Linked DNA regions of Homo sapiens. The protein of the gene in region 2 interacts with the protein of the main gene of each other region in a pairwise test. Each region holds a gene or a part of one and is shown on either strand. Other genes may lie near its edges.

What was found.
Region 1: the proteins of TNIP3 (region 2) and NBPF19 interact in a two-hybrid assay, tested with the Homo sapiens proteins (one large-scale study listed by BioGRID).
Region 3: the proteins of TNIP3 (region 2) and PIBF1 interact in a two-hybrid assay, tested with the Homo sapiens proteins (one large-scale study listed by BioGRID).
Region 4: the proteins of TNIP3 (region 2) and ZBTB8A interact in binary tests that used the Homo sapiens proteins (3 or more experiments, as listed by UniProt).

Annotation. Positions count from the first base shown.
Region 1 is NC_000001.11:149,551,227-149,555,166, reverse strand, and holds part of NBPF19 (NBPF family member NBPF19), read right to left. Parts: intron 3,841-3,940; coding exon 3,668-3,840; intron 2,959-3,667; coding exon 2,907-2,958; intron 2,281-2,906; coding exon 2,108-2,280; intron 1,394-2,107; coding exon 1,285-1,393; intron 673-1,284; coding exon 429-672; 3' UTR 1-428.
Region 2 is NC_000004.12:121,161,184-121,165,677, forward strand, and holds the start of TNIP3 (TNFAIP3-interacting protein 3), read right to left. Parts: upstream 3,139-4,494; 5' UTR 2,964-3,138; coding exon of another isoform or gene 2,943-2,963; coding exon 2,877-2,942; intron 34-2,876; coding exon 1-33. UniProt on the Homo sapiens protein: Binds to zinc finger protein TNFAIP3 and inhibits NF-kappa-B activation induced by tumor necrosis factor, Toll-like receptor 4 (TLR4), interleukin-1 and 12-O-tetradecanoylphorbol-13-acetate.
Region 3 is NC_000013.11:72,792,021-72,795,960, forward strand, and holds part of PIBF1 (progesterone-induced-blocking factor 1), read left to right. Parts: intron 1-426; coding exon 427-527; intron 528-3,338; coding exon 3,339-3,537; intron 3,538-3,940.
Region 4 is NC_000001.11:32,594,660-32,598,599, forward strand, and holds part of ZBTB8A (zinc finger and BTB domain-containing protein 8A), read left to right. Parts: intron 1-394; coding exon 395-564; intron 565-3,940. UniProt on the Homo sapiens protein: May be involved in transcriptional regulation.

The DNA.
Region 1 (3,940 bases), on a different chromosome or scaffold from region 2:
AGCCAACACTGAAGACACAAAGAATGAGGTTAGGTTCATTGAAACCAGGGTAACACCTTTGGATGAGCTAAACACAAAGATGACACTGACCTTGAGCAGGTATAGAAGCTCAGAGACATGCCTGCAAAATGAAATCCCTGAGGAATTTTGTAGCTACCCAAAGATACGTGGTTCAAATTAAAATGTCCGACTGATCACTCCCGGCATGTGCTGCACAGTTATGTGAACGTGTCACACCTAACGTGGGTCCATTGTCTTCAGACTGAGCACAGGTTGCCACTGGCATGGTTTGAGAATAGGAAAAGAGCCATGCCCACTGACCCATCCTATGTCTGGGCTTCCAAATGGAACTGTAGTTTCATTCAAATCTTCACGTGCCTATAGGTCCTGCCTGCAGGAATGACATCTCTCGGCTTAGTAAGGGCTGCCTATTGTGGGAATATGACTAACATCTGGAACACCAGATGGAGACTTGTCACCGTCAAAGTAAAAAACCTATTGTCCAAGTAAAGGGCGAAGCTGATATGCTCTTCCTCAAATGAGTAAAACACACTTCTGTAGTGCTGGAATGAGTCAGGTAGTTCAAAGTACATTGACGGAGTCGAATAACATCCATCCAGTGAGTCCTGTAAGACTTCAGGCTCTTCCACTTCCATCAGCACGCTGTTGAGCCTGGAAAAGGAGACAAAACTAAAGAAGCAGCCAGGGAAAATCAGACACCACAGAGCCCCACTAGATTTCAGAAGTCACATAAGGAAGTGGTTAGAAAAGAAAAAGGATAGATCCATTAATGAGGTAAAAAAAAAAATTTATTGCCTTTATGTTGGGATAGAACAGGGCCAGGTAGAAAACAATGAAAGAGAAAGACAGAGAGAGAGAGACAGAGACAGAGACAGAGAGAAAGTGACCTAGTGAATTGGCCAGGTGACATACTGGTAAGGGAGTAAAAGGACACTCTGAGTTAGTGCCCTCATGACACACAGCAAACTGTGATCATGAAAAGAGTGAGCTCAATAGTTTTCCATAAAATATGCTCAAAATTCGATGCAGTGGCCATGAGAGTACAGCTTTTGAAGTATGGTCAACCTATGGTACGCTAGTAAATGATAAGGGGAGGAAGAAATGGAAACCTAAACATCTACTGCAATGAAAACCAACAGCAATGACAGTAGGAGTAATTCAGCCTTCGTTGAAAACATGACATCAAACACACTCTGGTTTCCCTGAATCTGTTGCCTCCAGGTGTTAACACAGAATTAAGCATCCACAATTGCTGAAAGTCACCTGGGGCATGGTGGGTTTTGATCTTCTTCCCCTTCTTTTCTTCCCCTTCTTCTTTCCTTCTTTGATCTTCTTCCCCTTCTTTTCTTCCCCTTCCCCTTCTTTTCAATTTCTGCAATAAATTCAGACATGGACAGACACATTAAGCTGATTCCCCTACACACATAACAATCCACTGTCTAATCCTCACACAGGGACCTCAGGCTCCTCAGCATAAGAATAGGACACTGTGAGAGATATATTTCAGGAGGCCTGAAGGCTGGTCATGATAGAAATTCCTCGGTTTTTCTCCCAGAAACTGTGGGTAAAATGTCCCTATTCTAGTAGATCGTTATCCCAATATCATTTGTCCCAAGTTTGTGCAAACAGTTATGCCATATTTTTCCAATCAATTTAAAGCAAATACCCTCAAATGATTTCTGGGAGAAAAACTGCAATATTTAGCCCTGTCTCATCAAATACTCAGATTGTTCATGGTTGTGAGGACTTTAGACACTGAAATTAGAGTGAAAAAGGAAATCTACAAACCCTTGAGTCAAAATCATAGTTCTCTGAATTTGTCACATCTGCCCAGGTCCAATGTCATGAGAGTAGAATCAGAGTGCCACAGGTATGGCCTGAGACTAGGAAGAGAGCCATGCTCACTGACCCATCCCATGTCTGGGCTTCCAGGTAGAACTAGAGTTTCATTCAACCTACATGTGCCTATAGGTCCTCACTGCGGCAATGACATCTCTCAGCTCAGTAATGGCCACTTGGAGCAGGAATATGATCTTTATATGGAAGACTCAGTGGATGCTTATCACCTTCATAGAAAGGTACTCACCTCCCACGTCAAGAGAAAAGCCAACATGTTTTTCCTCCAATGCATAAAAGGAACTTCCATAGGGCTGGCAGGAGTCAGGCTGTTCAAGACAACTGGAAGGAGTTGAATAACATCTATCCAGTGAGTCCTGCAAGACTTCAGGCTCTACTACCTCCAGCAGCTCCCTGCTGAGCCTGGAAAAGGAGGAAAAAGTAAAGAATAAGCCAGGGGAAATCACACACAACAGAGCCCCAACTAGGTTTCATGGGTAGCATAAGGAAGTGGTTAAGAAAGTAAAAGGATAGATCCATTAATGAGGTAACAAATTATTGCCTTCATGTTGGGACAGAACAGGGCCAAATGGAAAAGAATGAAAGAGAAAGACAGATAGACACACACACACACACAGACACACACACAGAGAGAGAGAGAACGAGCTCAGTGAATTGTCCAGGTGACACACTGATGAGGGAGTAACAGGACACTCTGAGTTAGTGCCCTCAGGACACACAGCATACAGTGATCATGAAAAGACTGTGCTCAATAATTTTCCATAAAATGTGTTCAAGTTTCCATGCAGTCGCCATGAGAATACAGTTTTTGAAGTCTGGTCCACCTACAGTAGGTTAGTAAATGATAAGGGGAGGAAGAAATGGAAACCTAAATATCTACTGCAATGAAAACCAACAGCAATGTTAGTAGGAATAATTCAGGCTTGCTTGAAAAGATGTAATCGATAATGTCAGCCCGCTCTGTTTTCCCTGAACCAGGAGTCTCCAGATGTCAACACAGAAGTAGCTGTTCACAATTGCTCAGTTACCTGGGGCATGGTGGGCCTTGGTCTTCTTCCTCTTCTTGGTCCTTTTTAATTCCTGCAATACATTCAGACAGGGACAGACAAAATAAGCCAATTCACCTACACCCATAACAGTCCACTGTCTAATCCCCACACAGGGATCTCAGGCTCCTCAGCATGAGAACAGGACAATGTGAGAGATATACTTCAGGAGGCCTGAAAGCTGGTCATGATATTCTTTGGTTTGCATCTCAGAACCAAGGGTGAAATATCCCCATTCTGGAAGATCGTTATCCCAAAATCACTTATCCCAAGTTTGTGCAAACAGTTATGCCTTATTGTTCCCATCAGTTCAAAGAAAATGCCCCAGATGATTTCTAGGAGGAAAACTGCAGTATTCAGCCCTGTCTCATCAAATGCCCAGCTCGTTCATGGATGTAAGAATTTTAGACACTGAAATTAGAATGAAGGAGGAAATCTACAAACCCTTGAGTCCAAATCATAGTTCTGTGAATTTTTTACATCTGCCTGGGTCCAATGTGCTGAGAGCGGGCTCAGGTTGCCACAGGCATGGCTGGAGACTAGGAATAGAGCCTTGCTCACTGACCCATTTCATGTCTAGGCTTCCAACTGAGACTACAGTTTCATTACAACCTATATGCGCCCATAGGTCCTGCCTGCGGCAATGACATCTCTCGGGTCAGTAAGGGCCACTTGGAACAGGAATATCACCCCTATCTGGAAGACCAGGTGGAGGCTTATCACCTTCATAGTAAGGTACTCACTGTCCACGTCAAGAGCCAAGCCAAGGTACTGTTCCTCCAATGAGTAAACAGCACTGCTGTAGGGCTGGCCTAAGTCAGGCAGTTCAAGATAACCTGAAGGAGTCGAATAACATCTATCCAGTGGGTCCTGCAAGACTTCAGGCTCTTTCTCAGCCAGCAGCTCCCTGCTGAGCCTGGAAAAGTAGGAAAAAGTAAAGAATAAGCCAGGGGGAATCAGAAACCACACAGCCCCAGCTAGATTTCATGGCTAACATAAGGAACTGTTTAAAAAGA
Region 2 (4,494 bases):
CATCAAGTTCTTTCTTGTTGATGGTTCAGCACACTTAGAAAAAAAAAAAGAGAGAAGATTGAAACAAAGCTGTTTACAAAATAAACAGAAGTACTGTTCCTCAGAAACCCCATGCATTTGGCCAACTCTCCTGTTGCGATTTAAAAAATACCTGATTCTAGCAGTAATAATCCTCATACCCTAAGTCCTTCATCATGGCTGGTGGATGAGTCAGCTTCATATTATGTTTTAGAATGCTTTACATAAATTAGTTACCAATATAATTCTTTAATAAATTATAAATATATCTGTATACTATAACGGGTAAGTCAGAGATTAAAATTTTATGAATTTGGATTTCAATCCTTTTCCAAAAAAATGACAATTCAGAAATCAGGTAAGTTTCATGGATATATTTTAGGTATTTTTATAGTAAACATTTCATAAAAGTCATTTTGGTAGCTGTGCCCATGAACATGTATGTGAGTAATATTCTGAAAAGTAGACCCAGTAAACGTCAGAGGAACGACAAAATCATCGAGAAAAAGACAAACACATACAGCCATTACTGTGTAATTACTGTGTAATTTTAGCCAGCTCTTTGAATAAAGTCACTAGGTTACTAGTTTAGATTAATAATAAATTACTGGCATAATGAAAATTTACCACCTTTCTTTTCAGTTATTTTTTTCAGGAGTGAGAGTATTCATTTAAAGATAACACAAAAGCTGTGGAAGCTGTCTGCCATCTGCCTAAATCGACTAAGAACAATATTTACTTAAATAAAGGACTGGATCCTCTATAATAATTCAATAGTCTTATTACTATCTCATCTCAGAGTCATATAAGTAATACAATTTATTGGATGATGAGAGTAATTCCTACATCTGTAATCTGTTTCAGGCTTAATAGTTACTGTGGATCACTAAGTTGCTTAAAGCTATTTGTGAACCATTAAGAAATATTTTCAAAACATGTTGTTGGTCTTTGCCAGAAATGTGTACAGGAAATTGTTCTTTGCAATCATCATGGGATTTCAAGCACCTTTTTTCATCAGAAATTATTTATAAAACTGTATTTTCTATCTTTTCTCTGTTTGTTTATGTTTCAGCATTTTAGGGTTTGATGGTATTTTAAGTAAGCAGAGATGTTCTCGTTTCCTTAGCTTCTTCCTATTTAGACCTATGTTACAATTAAGACCACATTTAAAAAGAGACAGTCTTCTGTGGGTCAATAAATTCTGAATGATTATATTTGCTCTTGACCTCAAGAAGGTGTTCTGGCTGAGCACCAAGAGTGACACTGAAACCCAAGTGTCAAGTATGTTGGGGCCCGTAATTGGACCTTCTTCTTTTGGGGAAGACTTCCAAGAAACTGGACCCATTCTGGGTTAGAACAGACTAACTATTAAGCATCTTTGATCTGGAAAATGCTGTGAGCCAACCCTACTTAGTGTATCTTGAGGTCATCAGCAAAGTAGGGGCACAGTAAGACTGGATTTTAGAATGGTGGTTCCCACCACAAGAGCACATCAAAGTCACCGTTAAGCTTGCTAAACATAGAGCATCCTGAACAATGGATCAGAATTTCTAGAAGAGCAGCCAGGGCACCTCTATTTCTAATACATTTCCTAGGTAATTTTGATTCATACTAAAGTTCAATATATTCCCATTCTAGGGAATAAATTATGGGTCCTCAAAAATGTCTCCTCTCTGTTTGTGATGTAGACAAAAATCCGTGATTGGCAAACATTTGTATGTCCCTGCCTTTGGGAGCCCAGATGTGGAACAATGAGACAGTGTGCTTTTTGTTTGTTTCCCCATAAACAATTTTCTCTGGAAGAAAATTATAATACATTTCACCCTTGATTTTTCTTTAATAAATAAAAATTACTGAAAATCTAGATACCAAATCTGCAAGAGGCTCTATTTGTAACTGCACGAGTACTAGTTTTTGAAATTCATAAGTAATATTCAGTTATAGGTGGGGGAGGATAGGAGGGAGGAAAAATAGAAAACATAGTGACTAGGAATGGCATGTAAGTCACAAATGTATCACCAAAGCTTTCTCTGGAGATTAATCAACATTTTGTTATAGTTCATATGTCTCAGGTTTCTATAAAATAAAGCGAAATTAATCAAATACAAAGGTTTGGGGGACCTTTTCAATTTGTATTTACTTTGCTTTACAGTTGCTAATGAAGGCATCTGATTTGCAGTAACTACAAAGATTTTCAGTCATTGATTCTAGCAAGGGCTGCTTACGGAACAGTTATTCCCTATACATAATTTCCTATAATTATTCCCTATAAAGTAGAATTTCTGTTCAAAGCATCTGGGCACTTCTTTCTCTATGATAACATCCTTACCAATGTATATTCAAGGTCTGATGCTACTAAATTAAAAACTTAAATGAATAGAAGTTTCCATTTAGTTTCCCATTATACCTTGGTTATCTGTAAAAGAAAACTAGAAAATATTTGAATTCATTCATTCAATTAGCAGTAGTCTCTGTTGCTGAACAAAATCTATGGTACCAATTGTAAATATATAAAAATATTACTACAGATACTCTATTGTTACAATATGTTCTATTTCTACCTACACCAATATAGTATTCTTTTAAGATTTTTATAGAACAAAAATCAAGAACAAAATAAGGAACCCACAGAACTGGAAGGCTGAAAGGAATTTAAGCCCCGTGGGTTAAAAGCAATGTACTGGTTACTTAGATATTTTTTTCTATGTTACATAATTTTGGTTAAAAATATAGAGCAAATCTTAGCTAAAGAAAGCAAACTAGCCATTTCTGTTCTTATTAATAAGTGCACAATTAACCACTAGAAATGCCATCAATGCTAGATGTGATCAACTCATCTCCTAGAAATATGTTCTTACCTCTTTATGCTCCGTAGAACTTTCTGCGGCAATCATTCTAGATGTGCCCTGTACAAAATGTGCCATGGAAGCTGTTTTTCCTGGAGTCTTGGAAAGCAGAAAGAAAAACAGGGGAAAAGTCTCTTAAGGTATATTTTAGGGTGAGAGCAAGTATACAAAATTTAAAAAACACACATCACCGTTAACTCATAATAGAAAATAACAGCAATAGGTTTTCATTAAAAATGAACAGAAGTGACTGTGGATAGGAATTACACAGAATAAAGTTATAAGCACTGCAACTGGGATTTTAACTTTTCTTCTCTTCCAAATAGGGATTTCCCAGGATGTCTCAAATAGGCAGGCCGTGACTAAGACCTGGGGCAGATTAGCCTTGCTATAGTATGTAAATCGTCATTCTTCCTTTACTGGCAGTTTCTCCCACTGGAGGAGGAAGTTCTCCACCACAGAAAGCCTGGGCAATCCAAGTGTTTCCTCAGTAGCCTAACTGTTATAAATTCATTGTATTTCCCAGAGCAATTAGGTAACTGTTGACTTTTTGACAGCTCGGTTTCCCTAAAGGCGAGATTTTCTGGCAATACCTTCTAAATGTGAGTGTAGCTTGGTAGAACTTAATGAGTCATACATAATTCATAATACATAATAATATAAGTGCCACTAATTCTTATAGAAATAAAAGGGAAAATAATTCATTGTAAAGAAAATGGGCATTGTTTGCAAATCTAATCTTCTATATTGGCAGAAAGGTTAAACTTGTCTCAAGTTTAAGTCTGTCTTTTCTATAAATCAAGTCCAGATTGTCTCCATGACTCATTTGAAGTGAAATCTTCTCATGGAGAATCATTTTCACTTTAATTATTTGACTGTTATCATTTTAGGAGCCTTGAGGTAATGGAGCACTACTGGGTAGTACAGATAAAAGCGTGGAAATGGCAGATACTTGGAGCTGCATAAGTGAACTGCGATGGAACAGAAGACCTCATTTTGGACTTGGAACAAAAGGAAAGAGGCAAGGAATACAAAAAAGGAAAGAATGTGTAACTAAAAAGAGAAAAGAATTTATGGTCAATCATTTAACTTCATTAACCTGCCTACGAGATATTCACATATATATAGGATAAAGCCTAAAACTCCTAAAATTCAAAAGAGAGTGATTGAGTGTCCCACATTTGGCCCTCCCATTTCTCCTGAATATCTCCCCCTACTCTCCAACTCTCCCCTGTGCTCCAACCATCCTGACTGACCTCCCTTTCCTGAAATGAGTGAGATGGTTCTACGCCCCTGAGCTCTGTGCATGCTGTTCTTGCCACCTCAGATGTCTCCTCTCTGGGCCCTCCATCCAACCTTATGACGGGGAAAACCTAAGTCAATGCCTCTCTTTCCTTCTGATCTTCTCTTGACTTCCTCTAATCAGCTAAGGAGAGCACTTCATCATGCATTACGATTACATATTTCCATGTTCTTGTGTTAATCTCTGTGTCCACGCACCCAGGCACTGAGCTGTCTGGCACACAGCAGGCATTCAACACATTTTGCTACATGAATAAATGAATGAATATCTATATAATGATTTACAAAATCGATGAACTTTTTGCTAGTTTGTGTGTGTGTGTGTGTG
Region 3 (3,940 bases), on a different chromosome or scaffold from region 2:
CGCGGTGGCTCATGCCTGTAATCCCAGCATTTTGGGAGGGCAAGGTGGACTGATCACTTGAGGTCAGGAGTTCAAGAACACCCTGACCAACATGGTGAAACCCTGTCTCTACTAAAAATACAAAAATTAACCGGGTGTGGTGGCACTTGGCTGTAATCCCAGCTACTCAGGAGGCTGGGGCAGTAGAATCACTTGAACCTGGCAGGAGGAGGTGGCAGTGAGCCAAGGTTGCGCCACTGCACTCTAGCCTGGGCAACAGCACTTGGCCTTCCAAAGTGCTGGAATTATAGGCGTGAGCCCCTGTGCCTGGTCCCTCTATCCATTTTTAGCCTGTTTCTTTCAAGTGTTTTTAAAATATGTTTATTATGAAACTGAAAGTTTTTCTTTATGACAAATCATATAATTTATCTTTTTCTCTTTACGAAGATTGAAGAATTGGAGGAGAAACTTAATGATGCACTTCACCAGAAGCAGCTACTAACATTGAGATTAGACAACCAATTGGCTTTTCAACAGAAAGATGCCAGGTAAGAAAAGTTTTTTTTAAAAAAAAAACAACATCTATTTAGCAATTAAAAGTAATTTTATTGCCTGTTCATGTTTGTGACTGTAAGCTAAAATAGAGAAATTTTAAGTCAGAGATAGCAATAATTTTTACACCTAGACCACAAAAAAAGTAGGATACTTGATATGGTACATAAAATACAGAAAGTCAAAATTCAACATTCATTCAACAAACATTGGTCAGTGTAAACCATATATGATAAAGGAAGCTCTCTAAACTGACCACCATTAACCTTTCTTCTTTTACGCAACATATTGATTGATTCTCATGACCCATTGGACTTTCCTGGCCTGAAGTACTTTCTATTATTCCTGTGTACTTTCTCTAGCTCAGTTGTGGGCTTATCATGCTTAAATATGCCTATGGCAATTATACTTATGTAACTTAATTAAAAATAATACAAACAATGAAATAAATTCTTTGGAACGATTCAATAAAAGGAACTAAAAAAATTATGAAATTAAATATAAGCAACACAAGTTTAAAGATTGAGGGCAAACATGAAATCCATATAAGATACCTTCATTGGTTTCTTCCTAAATGTCTTTTAGGATCTCATGCCATTGTAAAGAAATTGAACTTGGAAATCATACATGATGATTTACACAAAATCAAATCATACCTCTGTATTCAAAATATCTGGATCCTATATAAAAATGTGAATGTTTAGTTCTATGTTTTAATTACAGGTAAAAGTGTAAAACAGGTAAATTTTCCCTTTTTAAGATTTTACTACTTAACTGATATTGTAAAAAATTATCGGACCTTTTTATCAGCCACTATCACACTAGATTAGTGGACCTCAAACTTTAGCATGTATCAGGAACAGTTGAAGGGCTTGTTAAAGAAGCCTACTGGATCCCACCCTCAGAGTTTCTGACTTGTGGGGGTGGGGTCCTGAGAATGTGCATTTTTACTGGGTTCGCAGGTGATGCAGATGCTGCTGGTCCAGAAACAATACTTTGAGAACCACTGCATTTGATAATAGGTCTTCTATGCTAATTCTGTAAGACATATATCAGATTGAATGATGCTGCTGAGAGGGCAGTCACGAGTCTATTGTAATAAAACTCTTGATAGCTGATGGTCATAAAAAATGGTTGGATTCTGAATATTTTTTGGAGGGCTGATGGATTCAATGTGGGGCTTAAGAGAAAAAGGGGAGTCAAGGATTACATCAAAAGTTTTGGCCTGAACAAATGAAAAAATGGAATTTCTGTCAGCTAAGAAGAAAGAAATCATGGTAGCAAAGGTTTTGTGAGTAAAAAGCCTGAGTTCAATTTGGGACATGTTAAGTTGGAGTTTTCTAGTTAGAAATCCATGTGGAGGTATACGAAAAGTCTCGTGTAGAGGTACAAATCTGGGGATCATTAGGCTATAGACAGTATTCAAGTCATGAGACTAGATGAATTCCCCAAGGAGTGCGTACAGACAGAAGAGGACCAAGTACTCCAACATTAAGACAAAGCAGAAAAGGAGACTGAGAAGGAACCACAGTAAAATAGAAGAAAAATGAACAGTATGATGTCTTGGAAGCCAGGTGATGAAAATGTATCAAGGAAAGAAAGTGACTTGTGTCAAGCTCTATCATTAGATCATGGAGGAAAAGAACTAAGAATTGATCATTTGCAATTTAGATGTCATTGAGATTTCATTGGAGACAGTAAAAATATGATCGCCATGGGTTTAAGAGGAAAGGATTTGGAGACAATAATTATAGACAACTTTTGAGCAAGCTTGCTCCAAAGGGGTGGCTAACAAAGGGGGAAGTGCAGTGAAGTCCAGAGTTGTGGTTTTGTTTGTTCATTTGTTGTAAGATTGAAATAACAGCATGTGTGTCTGTTAATGGGATTGATATAGTAGGGAAGGGGAAAATCAGTAATATGATTTGGCTGTGTCCCCACCCAAATCTCATCTTGAATTATAGCTCCCATAATTCCTACATGTCATGGGAGGGACCTGATGGGAGGTAACTGAATCATGGAGGTGGTCTTTCCCATGCTGTTCTCATGATAGTGAATAAGTCTCACAAGATCTGATGGTTTTATAAATGGGAGTTCCCCTGCACAAGCACTCTTGTCTGCCACCATGTAAGACATGCCTTTGCTTCTCTTTTGCCTTCCGCCATGATTGTGAGGCCTCCCCTGCCATGTGGAAGTCTGAGTCCAGTAAACCTCTTTCCTTTATAAATTACCCAGTCTTGGGTATGTCTTTATTAGTAGCATGAGAGCAGACTAATAACATCAGATTGTCCCTTCCTGATCAGAATCTTTCAGTAGGCAACTAACAATAATGTCTGCTACATGTATTCTTTGAGAATGATGAGTATGTGCAGATTACTGTTTTCATTACCTCATTGGTTGAGTGAATACCTTATGGTGGTTCAGTGTTACCATCTTAAAGAGATATCCTTGAAGTATCAGGATAAAAGGGAAATGAAAATTACTTTAATAAGTAGAGTCCTTGATGTTTAACATTAAACCTTAAGCAGAAGAAATATATAATTTTATAATTTGAATTTCTAAAATTATTCTTTAAGAATATCAATTCTCTGTTTAATAATTTATATGGTTACACATTTAATAATTAGTATGGAATTGTCATTTCATATTTAACTGATTAATATGAGTAAATAAGTATTTAGCTGGAGTAAGTAAATAATACTGTCAGGTTTCTGATTTCCTAACTTTATGTTGATATAAATAGGAAACTGTGAGAAAATTAGATCTCAAATACTTTTTTAAAGCCTGCCATAAATTCTCTTCTAATGTAGCAAATATCAAGAATTAATGAAACAAGAAATGGAAACCATTTTGTTGAGACAGAAACAACTAGAAGAGACAAATCTTCAGCTAAGAGAAAAAGCTGGAGATGTTCGTCGAAACCTGCGTGACTTTGAGTTGACAGAAGAGCAATATATTAAATTAAAAGCTTTTCCTGAAGATCAGCTTTCTATTCCTGAATATGTATCTGTAAGTATCTTATATCTATTTTTAACTATGACATATATTTTCAGACTAAAATTTACCATTTATATAGTAGCAATTACTTTTGAAGTACCCAATTGATACATTATTTTATGGCTATGGATGGTGAATGGTGTTGAGATCCAAATTTTAAAGGATCATGACCATTGATCTCCAAAGTCAAGCAATAAATAGGTTTCTGAAGTTAATGACTGCATAGTCCATAGAAATGAATTATCGTAAACTGGTGGTTTCTTACATTCTCAAAATGAAAAATTATAAACAACAGAGTAGTTGTTGCCAGGGGTTGGTTGGGGATAGTGGGAGAGAGGAGTCAGCGTGGTTATAAAGGGATAGGATGAGAAAGAACTTTGTGGTGAGAGATTGGCGCAAGATCTTGATTGCAGTG
Region 4 (3,940 bases), on a different chromosome or scaffold from region 2:
CTGAGGCAGAAGAATCGCTTCAGGAGAACCCAGGAGGCAGAGGTTGCAGTGAGTGGAGATTGCGCCATTGCACTCCAGCCTGGGCAACAGAGCGAAACTCTATCTCAAAAAAAAAAAAAAAAGCATAGCAGTCTGAATTTACCCAACTTTCTAAATATATCAAATACCGAAGTTAAAGTTCCATACTTAGGATTACATTGACAATCTAGTCTTAATAAAATTTCTTTCGTCTCTTACTTTTTGGGCTAACCAACTCCTTGTGAATTCTTTTTATTTCTTTTTTTTTAAGTTTATTTTTTTCTTTCCTTGTTTCCATTGGGCTTGGATTGGATTCTTTCTGTTATTAGAATTGTTATGAACTTTCCAGTGATTTAATCAAAGCGTCTCTTGACAGATGATCTGCCTCGGATGCGATTCAAGTGCCCGTACTGCACACATGTGGTGAAGCGGAAGGCAGACCTAAAGCGCCACCTTCGTTGTCATACAGGAGAAAGGCCCTATCCATGTCAAGCTTGTGGAAAAAGATTTAGCAGGCTAGACCATCTAAGTAGCCATTTTCGAACAGTATGTATGATTTTTTTTCATCGTTTTACTAATTCTTTTTTGGTTTTTGTTTTTGTTTTTTTGAGATGGAGTTTCACTCTTGTTGCCAGGCTGGAGTACAATGGTGTAATCTCAGCTCGCTGCAACCTCTGCCTCCCGGGTTCAAGCAATTCTCCTGCCTCAGCCTCCCAAGTAGTTGGGATACAGGTGTGTGCCACCACGCCTGGCTAATTTTTGTATTTTTAGTAGAGATGGGGTTTCACCACATTGGCCTGGCTGGTCTCAAACACCCAACCTCAGGTGATTCACCTGCCTCAGCCTCCCAAAAGTGCTGGGATTACAGGCATGAGCCACCACGCCCGGCCTTGTTTTGTTTTTTTTTTTTGAGACAGGGTCTCTCTCTATCGCCCAAGCTGGAGTGCAGTGGTGCCATCTCAGCTCACTGCAGCTTTTGTTTTTTTTTTTGAGACAGGGTCTCTCTCTATCGCCCAAGCTGGAGTGCAGTGGTGCCATCTCAGCTCACTGCAGCCGCGACTTCTCAGGCTCAAATTATCCTCCCGCCTCAGCCTCCTGAGTAGCTGGGACTACAGGCCTGCACCAACATGCCAGGCTAATTTTTGTATTTTTATATTTTTTGTAGAGATGGGGTTTCATCATGTTGCCCAGGCTGGTCTTGAACTCCTGGGGTCAAGTGATCCACCTGCCTCAGCCTCCCAAAATGCTGGGGTTACAGGCGTGAGCCACAGTACCTGGCCCATCATTTTACTTCTTAAGAAATATGTACAGTTGGCCAGGCACAGTGGCTCACACACGTAATCCCAGCACTTCGGGAGGCCAAGGCGGGCAGATTGCTTGAGGCCAGTTCAGTTCAAGACCAGCCTGGTTGGCTGGGCGCGGTGGCTCACGCCTGTAATCCCAGCACTTTGGGAGGCCGAGGCAGGCGGATCATGAGGTCAGGAGATCGAGACCATCCTGGCTAACATGGTGAAACCCCGTCTCTACTAAAAATACAAAAAAATTAGCCAGGCGTGGTGGCGGGCGCCTGCAATCCCAGCTACTCAGGAGGCTGAGGCAGGAGAATGGTGTGAACCTGGGAGGCGGAGCTTGCAGTGAGCCGAGATTGCATCACTGCACTCCAGCCTGGGCGACTGAGCGAGACTCCATCTCAAAAAAAAAAAAAAGACCAGCCTGGCTAACATGGTGAAACCCCATCCACCAAAAATACAAAAATTAGCTGGCATGGTAGCGCACACCTATAATCCCAGCTACTCAGGAGGCTGAGGCACGAGAATTGCCCAAACCCAGGAAGTGGAGGTTACAGTGAGCTGAGATCGCGCCACTGCACTCCAGCCTGAATGACAGAGTGAGACACTGTCTAAAACAAAAAACAAACAAAAAAAATACATTTATGGGCTTTAGGATCATCTCATTTGCTGAGGGAAATGTTTTCACACAACTCTACCATATTTAAAATTCTTCCAACTTAGTGTTTTTACTTTGCACGTAAAGCATAATTATGTATATTGATTTTTAATCTCCTTCAAGACCTTGAAGTGGGGTATATTCTTTTGATGGTAAATAGTTTTATATTTCCATTTTAATTCACTTAGTCTAATATGTTTTTATATACTGGTCTGTTCAGAGCCAAAGATAATATAAACTGTATAAATGCTTTAAGTGTCTAGGTCAGAATCACCACTGTAGATACTCAGCATCTACCAGTGATTACTGAATCCTTGTCTGGTAGGATTTCAGTCTAGTTGCGGCTGTCCAACCAAAGGAGGTCTCCACTACACCTGCTTTCTTTTTTCTTTTTTTTTTTGAGACAGAGTCTCGCTCTGTTGCCCAGGCTGGAGTGTAATGGCGTGATCTTGCCCCACTGCAACCTCTGCCTCCCAGGTTCAAACAATTCTCCTGTCTCAGCCTCCCGAGTAGCTGGGACTACAGGTGCCCACCTAGTTTTTGTATTTTTAGTAGAGATGGGGTTTCACCATGTTGGCCAGGCTGGTCTTGAATTCCTGACCTCAAGTGATCCATCCACCTCGGCCTCCCAAAGTACTGGGATTACAGGCGTGAGCCACCACGTCTGCTGGTCTTATATTTTTAGATATCATATGGTCTCAGGAATTTGAGGAATTGTATTGGTTTATTATGTTTGGATCCACAATTATTATTCCTTTTGACACTCAAATTTTTAGTTTTATCCAGTGAACAGTCTCTACCTTGATGCTGGCTCTTGTCTCCTTTTGTCACAACTCCATTAAATTTTGAAAGTGTCCTTGTTCTCTGGCTCCAAAAGAGGCCTAGACTCACTTTGTACTTTCCCTACCACAGAGCTGGAATCAGCCATTTCTCAATCCATTTCCTTTAGTGGAAAGTGAAATTAGAGCCCAAAGTCTGGGCAGTCATTGTTACGGAGGTGTCATTTCTTTTACACTATTTCAGTGGATAGAGTTAGAAGATACATATTTTGGAGGGATGGACATGAATCTGTATCAGAGCTTGTAACAAAAACAATACCACATTTGATACCCATAGTTTTGTTTGTTTGTTTGTTTGTTTTTTGAGACAGAGTCTCGTTCTGTCATCCAGGCTGGAGTGCAGTGGCACGATCTCAGCTTACCACAACCTCCACCTGCTGGGTTCAAGTGATTCTCCTGCCTTGGCCTCCCGAGTAGCTGGGATTACAAGCACATATCCGGCTAATTTTTTTTTTTTTTTTTGTATTTTTAGTAGAGATGGGGTTTCACCATGTTGGCCAGGCTGGTCTTGAACTCCTGGCCTCAAGTGATCCACCCACCTCCACTTCCCAAAGTGCTGGGATTACAGATGTGAGCTACTACGCCCAGCCTAATACGCATAATATTACTATCTCAGGAGAAATCAGAATTCATTCAAATCATGTACTTTTAATGTTTACTGATTAATATGTCAACAGTTACACACAGGATAATAACTGTACTAGTGGTAATTCCATACATTTTCCTACATATTTTACCAGACTGTATTAGCTTTCTTGGATTTTTTTTTTTTTTTTTTTTTTTTTTTGAGATGAAGTCTCACTGTGTCATCTAAGCTGGAGTGCAGTGGCACAATCTCAGCTCACTGCAACCTCCGCCTCCCGGGCTCAAGTGATTCTCCTGCCTCAGCCTCCCGTGTAGCTGGGATTACAGGCGTGTGCCACCATGCCCAGCTAAGTTTTGTATTTTTTTTTAGTAAAGATGGAGTTTTACCATATTGGCCAGGCTGATCTCAAACTGCTGACCTCAAGTGATCCACTCACCTCAGCCTTCCAAAGTGCTGGGATTACAGGTGTGAGCCACAGTGCCCAGCTTCTTGGAGTTTTTTACTGTGTTTGGTGCCCTACTTCTGCACTGTCCTGACTTTATTTAAATGA